Linked DNA regions of Homo sapiens. The protein of the gene in region 2 interacts with the protein of the main gene of each other region in a biochemical or structural test. Each region holds a gene or a part of one and is shown on either strand. Other genes may lie near its edges.

Region 1 (3,745 bases), on a different chromosome or scaffold from region 2:
TTAGAAAAGGGATGTGACTTTGGATTGGGTAATAAAGAGCCGTTTATTGCATGTGTACAAATTATAAATTCCCAGGCACACCCTGATCATAGCAGGATCCTTTTGTTAGCTTTATGGGGCATGAAGTTGGCACCAAAGTATTCATGGGGATGTACAAGTAAGGAAGGGAAGCCAAAAGCATGTCTGATCATACAATCAGGTGTAAGCAAGCCCCCTAAGTAGCCAGGGCATGAACTTTGTCTATCTCTGAAATGACCAGAAGAAAAGGCAAGAGTGTGATTCATCCCTTGCCTCCACAGCAATTCATTTGGCTATCTACTTTTCTTATTACCAATGGCTAACCCTCTAAGGGTACCACTCCTGGCCATGAGGCCTCATGACTCAAAGTCTTAAGATTTATAGCATTTTCCCTGGAGACCAAGGGCATTCCTTTGGGTGATACCTTTTTACTACCCAGAGGTTAGTCATTTACTATGGGTGATCCATTCAAATAAATTGGTTGCCAGGCTACCTCTTCAGATAAGAGTTCAAACTTGCATAAATAATCCCCAGCCACACTGTGACTTCTATGTGCAAGCCTAGAGGGGACGATGTTGCAGGAACCGTGCCAACCACTAAGACACTTTCAAGTTTATCCTAGAGAATGCCAAGACAGCTTCTCAATTCCATCAAGTGAGTCCTTCACAGGAACATTTCCCTAAGTTGAAAAACTGCAGGAAATAATTTATCTTTATGTTATTAATTGGTTACTATAAGGGCTACAGGAATTATTTAGGAACCAGATGATACCTGGTTTTCTCCATAGTTTACATAAGCCAGTCCCTGCAAAGATTCTTCCCCTACCCCCCTTAATTTTTTTTTTTTTCCTCAGAGATCCTTGTTCCAACCTGCAAGGATTCTTTGGCCTGGTGCTTTTCCAGGTAAAGTGTAAGAGCCAGGATTTCTGGATTTTGTTCCTAGACATGAGTGAGCTTGGATAAGTAAATCATTTTCTCTTTTAGTCTGTTTGGGCTTCTGTAACAAAATATCATAAACTGGGTAGCTTATAGGCAATATACATTTATTTCCCACAGTTCTGAAGGTCGGGAAATCCAAGATCCAGGCCAGCAGATTTGATGTCTGGTGAGGGCCTGCTTTCTGGTTCACAGAGGGAGCCTTCTGGCTGTGTCTTCACAAGGTGGAAGTGGCAAGGGGTCTCTCTCCGGCCTCTTTTATTAGGGCACCAATCTCATTCATAAGGACCCTGCCCCTATGACCTAATCACTTCCCAAGGCCTCCACTTCCTAATACATCACCGTGAGGGTTAGGATTTCAACATATGAACTTTGGCGGGATATAAACATTCAGACTATAGCACCCTGACAGTAAAAATGAGATAATAATACTTATCTCTTTCTTCCAACAAAAAGATAAGGTGAAGTTAAAAGGAGGGTATATATATATATAATGTGAATTTCCTGTGTAAAATGTGTTAAAGAGTTGTCTGATTAATTGCTTTATAAGGGAATTGCTTTGAGACTAGGCCTATTGATCTAGAATAAGTAGTCAATTTGTAGTCAGTTCCCTAGGGAATAGACATTGAAAAGATTTTTGGTTTTGTATTCTACAAATAAAGCAACCTATTAATTGAATTCCTCTCAGCGAATTCTTCACTCAGGTGATTCTGGAGAGGGCGGGGGACAGACGCGGCCGCAGCCCAGGTCCCGGGAGCGCCACGGAACCTAACGGTGGCAGCGGAGGTCGCGCCCCTCAGTGCCCGCGCTCTCCCCGTCGGGAGCTTCCTGGTCGCCCCTGCGGCGGCGGCTCGGGGTGTCTGGCCGGCGCGGGGCTCGCCCAGCCTGGTCCGGGGAGAGGACTGGCTGGGCAGGGGCGCCGCCCCGCCTCGGGAGAGGCGGGCCGGGCGGGGCTGGGAGTATTTGAGGCTCGGAGCCACCGCCCCGCCGGCGCCCGCAGCACCTCCTCGCCAGCAGCCGTCCGGAGCCAGCCAACGAGCGGTGAGCTGCGCGGGGCGCGGGGGACGCGGCTCCGGCCGGGCAGGGGAGAGGGCGCCCGGGCGCTGCTTGGGGCGCGGTCCGGAGAGGGTTCGGCTCCCCGGGACCGGGCCGGGGCGCGCGCGGAGAGCCCCACAGCCTGTGCTCTGCCCTCCAGGAGCGGGGCGGCGGGCAGCGATCTGGGCCCGGGGCAGTCGCCTTTGATTATCGAGGGCGCTGGCGTTCGGGGAAGGTTGGCAGCACCTTACGAGACCCACACACGTCCCCGGGGCGGCACGGGCCACCTTCTGCGGAGCCTCGTGGGCTTCGCCGCCGTCGCACCTCCGCCGCCTGCGCTCTGCGGCCCCAGAGTAAGCCCCATCCGGTGACGAGCCGCAGTCTGGTCACCCCAGTCCCACCAGGTCCCGCTGCGAGGGGAGGCGGAGGGGCTCGCTCAGCAAACCAGACGGCCGCTCCAGTTTCTCTAATTGGGGTTGGAGCCCCGTCACCCTTCCCCAGATCACGGCCGCGGGGGAGCGAAGGGACTTCCCAGGACTGCATAGGGCGCCTCCCGGGACCCACAGCTTGGCTGGCCCGGCCCCTTTTGAGCATCAGCTGAGGCTGGACTTGGAGGAGATCTCGCTGTGGAGCGCGAATGAGTTCTTCCACCGGGACCAGCTGCGGCCGGGCTGCAGCCGCTGTCTGGTTGCTGATCCCACAGAAAATGGTGCTTGCCCCATGGCCTGAGTGGGCATGACCCGGCTTTGCAAAGACTGCAAACTCTAAGCTTTTCCGAATCAAATGCCCCTCCCTGCCCAGACTGTCTGTGCCCAGGAAATGGTGGGTGTGGCAAAATGTTGGTCCTAGCGTGCAGAGCCCTACCGGGGGGCTTTCACAACATGTTTGAGAGTTTATTCTGAATTATCGGGTGCTCAAATAGAAACACTAAAACGATTGCCCTCTGAGCAGTAGGCGTTCAGGTCCAGGGAGTCGGGGACGCATGGTGGAGGCTGGGACTTAGGTTTCAGCCTTACCCTTCAAGTTCGCCATGCGGGTTCCAGAGACTGCGGAATGTTTGTAAAGTGACTCTGGGAATTGGGTTGCTGCGCAATGAGGACACCTGGACCTCAGTGACTCAGGCTGTCTCTAGGATTCTGGGGAAGAAATGGGAGAAGGCTCAGTTAATTCTGAAGAAAATGAGACTGATACAATTAACTACTTGGGCACAGGGCCTGAGAAGAAAAAGCTTTCGTCAGCTTCCAAAGTTCTGATTTGTTTACCTAAGGTTTTTTTTTTTTTTGAGACGCAGTTTCGCTCTTGTTGCCCAGGCTGGAGTGCAACGGCACTATCTCGGCTCACCGCAACCTCTGCCTACCGGGTTCAAGCGATTCTCCTGCCTCAGCCTCCCGAGTAGCTGGGATTACAGGCATGCGCCACCATGCCCGGCTAATTTTGTATTTTTCGTGGTGGTGGTGGTGGGGGGGGGGGGGTCCCTCCATGTTGGTCAGGCTGGTCTCGAACCCCCGACCTCAGGTGACCCGCCTGCCTCGGCCTCCTAAAGTGCTGGGATTATAGGCGTGGGCCACTGCGCCTGGCCTACCTCAAGTTTATAAACATTTCATACTAGGAAATTGTGTGTTTCCATAAAAGGTAAAGTTGAATAATGATCATTTACTTTTCTACAACAATAGTCTCCCTTTTAGACATTGACTCTCAATCCTTAGGGTAGGGTCTCTCATTCTAAAGATGATCATACCCCATCCTTGATCTTTGGG
Region 2 (3,745 bases):
TGGTTTCTCTGGCTCGGTAAGAATCCTGTGATACCTGACACTGTCCCCTCAGTTCAGCAAGCCTGGGGCAGGCCTCTGGGTGGCACTGCTGTGGGCACCGGCTGGGAGTCTGGGCCTGGTGACCTTGAGGCTGCTTGGAGGGGGCCTGGTGGACGGCTGCAATGGCATCCCCAGAGCTTGTCGGAAATGCAGTCATGGCTGGCCTTGCCCTAGCCCCTCTGCATGGGAGTCTGCATGAACAAGCGCCCTGGGAGCTGGGTGCACTGGCTGGTGAGCAGCTTTGCTCTGGGACTCGTGCTCGCTGGCACTGTGCAGCCACCCCTTGTCGGGGCTCCCCGGGCACCACTGGAGGCCTTACCGTGACCCTGAGAACCACCTTAGTTACACCTCACCTTACAAGTGAATGAGCTGACACCCAGAGAGGCAAATGGGCTCCACATCCACAGTCAGTGAGCCACAGGCAGGGGGTCTGCTCGGGGGAGCCCACCTCTCCTCCCTGTGTCAATGTCAGTAGATGGCTAAAGGGGCCAGGGTGTGACCGCCTGTCCTGTGTGCTGGGGACTGTGCTGGTTTTAGCACTGAAGTTTCCCTGTGTCCTGGGAAACCCCTCAGTCCCAGGCACGCCGGTATGGGTGGACGCCCTCTCCACTTCTGCCCCCAGCCACTTCACTCTGCTGCAGCCACTAGGTTTGTCCGTCCTGGGAGAGTAACTCAGGGCCTTGGAAAAATGGCCAACTGGCCAGGCGCGATGGCTCACGCCTGTAATCCCAGAACTTTGGGAGGCTGGGGCAGGTGGATCACTTGAGGTCAGGAGTTCAAGACCAGCCTGGCCAACATGGTGAAACCCCGGCTCTACTAAAAATACAAAATAATAATAATAATAAGCTGGGCATGGTGGTGTGCACCTGTAGTCCCAGCTACTCAGGAGGCTGAGGCAACAGAATTGCTTGAATCCGGCAGGCAGAGATTGTAGTGAGCCGCTGCACTCCAGCCTGGGTGACAGAGCAAGACTCTGTCTCAAAAAAAAAAGGGGGGGGGGCAACGAAGCACCTGGCAGGTGGCGTCGCTGCCCTTTGTGTGGCAGCGGCTATTTTTGCCTGATTCCTTCATACAGTTGAGACCCGGCTGCCTGTGTTGGCCCCTTCGTGCAAATCAGAAAAAAAGGTGCTCTTCCTTGGAGTGGGTGCAGGCCTAGGCCAAATGCACAGGTCTGAGAGAGGGCCAAGCTGAATTCTAACCCACTTGCCCTTTGGCTGGTATCCTTGTGCAGTGAGTAATCTGCCCAACTGTACACAGAGGCCCTGTGGGCCTGGGAGCAGCAATGATTGTTGCTGGACTCAGGAGCCCTGGATCCCCAGCTCCAGGCCTATGTGCAAACAGGGAGGCATGACCCCCACTTGCCTGTGTAGAGAGAGGGGTGCCCTGGCCGGGCGCGGTGGCTCACACCTGTAATCCCTACACTTTGGGAGGCCGAGGCGGGTGGATCACCAGAGGTCAGGAGTTTGAGACCAGCCTGGCCAAGATGGCGAAACCCTGTCTCTACTAAAAATACAAAAATTAGCTGGGCGTGGTGGCACGCGCCTGTAATCCCAGCTACTTGGGAGGCCGAGGCAGGAGAATCGTTTGAACCCAGGAGGCAGAGGCTGCAGTGAGCGGACATTGCATCACTGTACTCCAGCCTGGGTGACAGAGTGAGACCCTGTCTCAAAAAAAATAAAAATAAAAAAGAGAGAGAGACTGAGAGGGGTGCCCACCTGAGAGCTAGAGGCAGGAGCTTACCTGGCTGCGGTAGCTGCAACGGCCGTGTGGAGCCTCCTCGCTTCCAGCCACAGGATCCCTCTGCAGACTGGTCCTTTGACCCAGAAGCCTCTCCCAGTATGGAGCGTGGTCAGGCTGATCCCAGGAAATGCTTCAGAAAAGAGTCTACTTTCGATTTCCAGAAACCACCTGACATAGATGTCTTCCGGGATTGGCTGCTGCTGATACTCCCCAGGGCCCCTCTCTTTTGTCTCAGCTCTGCCTGTGGCTATCAGTGCCAGGCTGGCAGAGGCCCAAGGTGGGAGTCTGGCTGGAGCAAGGCCTGCAAGAGGACTAACAGCCACACTCAGTTGGAAAGGCCGCCAGGCTGGTCAGGGGCTGGCGTTTGGTGGACGGGAGGGGAAGAAGCAGAGGCTCTGGGCCCAGACAGTCTGCACCTGGTGGTGTGGCTGTGGACTCTGACAGAGCGCTCCGAGTCTTTTCCTGGGTCTAGCACGTTGCTGGCTGGGTGAACACCACACAGGGGGCTGCTTATGTGCAAATCCACCCTCTCTGTGCTCTTGGCATGCTGACCACACAGAGGGCCTGTGCCCCACAAGGTTGCATGGCACTGTCCCCTGTCCCCAGGGGAGGGAGGCACTGAGAACCAGGTATGCAGCTGGCCAGTGGAGGAGCTGGACCCTGCTCCAACACCTGACCCCAGAGCCTGTGCTCGCCACTGCTGGACCTGTGGCCACTCTCCTACTGTCTCCCCCTCAGCGGGGCGGGGGACAGAGCCTCTCTGGGTGACATAATGGCTCTGTCCAGCTCATACCCATTCCCTTTCCTCCCACTGAAAGCCGGCACCTCAACTGTCCCTTGGGGAGCACCCCCTCCCATTCCCGGCTGTGTGGTTCCCAGAGGGCCCCCAGCTCTTGGCCTTCAACCACCCAAGGCCTGGCTGTCTGAGCCCTGCGGGGGCCCCGGGCCACACTGCTGGTTTCAGGGTGGGGCTGTGAGCCCAGCCAGCCGGTGAGAGCCAGCTTCTGACTGAGAGGATGTGGGCCCAGGCTGCTGGGGCCGGTGGGGCAGAGCAGAGGGAAGCAGGCATCCTCCGGCCTGAGCTCCTGGGTCCAGCTGGCCTAATCCATGGTCAAGGCTGGGCTTCACCGCTCAGTGAGGCAATCAGCAGCCGCTCTTGTTTCTGTCACTTGCACCCCATGGTTCTGGATGAGCCTTGGGATGTGCCCAGGCCTCTGACCAGTGGTTCTCAGCCTGGGCTGGACAGAAGAATCATCAGGGAGTTTTACAAACTCCTAATGCCTAGACCCAGGAAGTCACCATCTCTGGGAGTAGGGGACAGGCAGGGGCATTTAAAAGCCCCCAGGCAGTCCCACTGGGTGGAAGGCCCTGGTTCCCTGGCAGCTTAGAGTCCGAGACAGCCAGCCCAGAGGTCAGACATTCAATGACTATTTCCTTCAAGGTGTGAGGTTTTAGGCAGCTGCACGGTTTGCCTAATCCCCTCCAGAGGAACTGTGAAGATCCAGGGGCAGGTGCAGCTGGAAATAGAACTGGCTGTGGGGAGTTTAAAAAAATCTCATCTGGATTAAGGGCCTGAGTGCACAGAAACCCCAGCATCATCCCTTCTCAGCAGTGCTAATGACTTCTGCCCAAGTGGCCAGGGAAGGACAGGAGTGCAGAGGACGGGAGGGCATCTCTGGGAAGTGCTGGGAAAGGTTTTAAAACTCAGGTGCCGAATCTTTAGCCCCAGAGTCCGGGAAAGTCCTAAGCCATCCAGGCAGGTAAAATGGAAAACCCAGAGGCCTCCTCGTGGAATCGGAGCACCAACATCTGCTCCCCTGGGGCTCGCAAGGCCTTTCCGGTGTGCGATGACCATGGGGTGGAGGGAAGCGCTGACAGGGGACAGGCAGGGGAAGGGGCAGCGGCTCGGCTCTGAGAAGACAGCTGGGTGAAAGCCTCAGATTCGTGTGGACAGAACTGCTGTCAT

Evidence for each region. The genes of interacting proteins can lie anywhere in the genome.
Region 1: the proteins of LGALS3BP (region 2) and LGALS3 form a complex in vitro, tested with the Homo sapiens proteins (4 studies listed by BioGRID).

What each region holds. Positions count from the first base shown.
Region 1 is NC_000014.9:55,127,307-55,131,051, forward strand, and holds the start of LGALS3 (galectin-3), read left to right. Parts: upstream 1-1,945; 5' UTR 1,946-1,994; intron 1,995-3,745. UniProt on the Homo sapiens protein: Galactose-specific lectin which binds IgE. May mediate with the alpha-3, beta-1 integrin the stimulation by CSPG4 of endothelial cells migration.
Region 2 is NC_000017.11:78,978,045-78,981,789, forward strand, and holds the start of LGALS3BP (galectin-3-binding protein precursor), read right to left. Parts: upstream 1,880-3,745; 5' UTR 1,780-1,879; intron 1-1,779.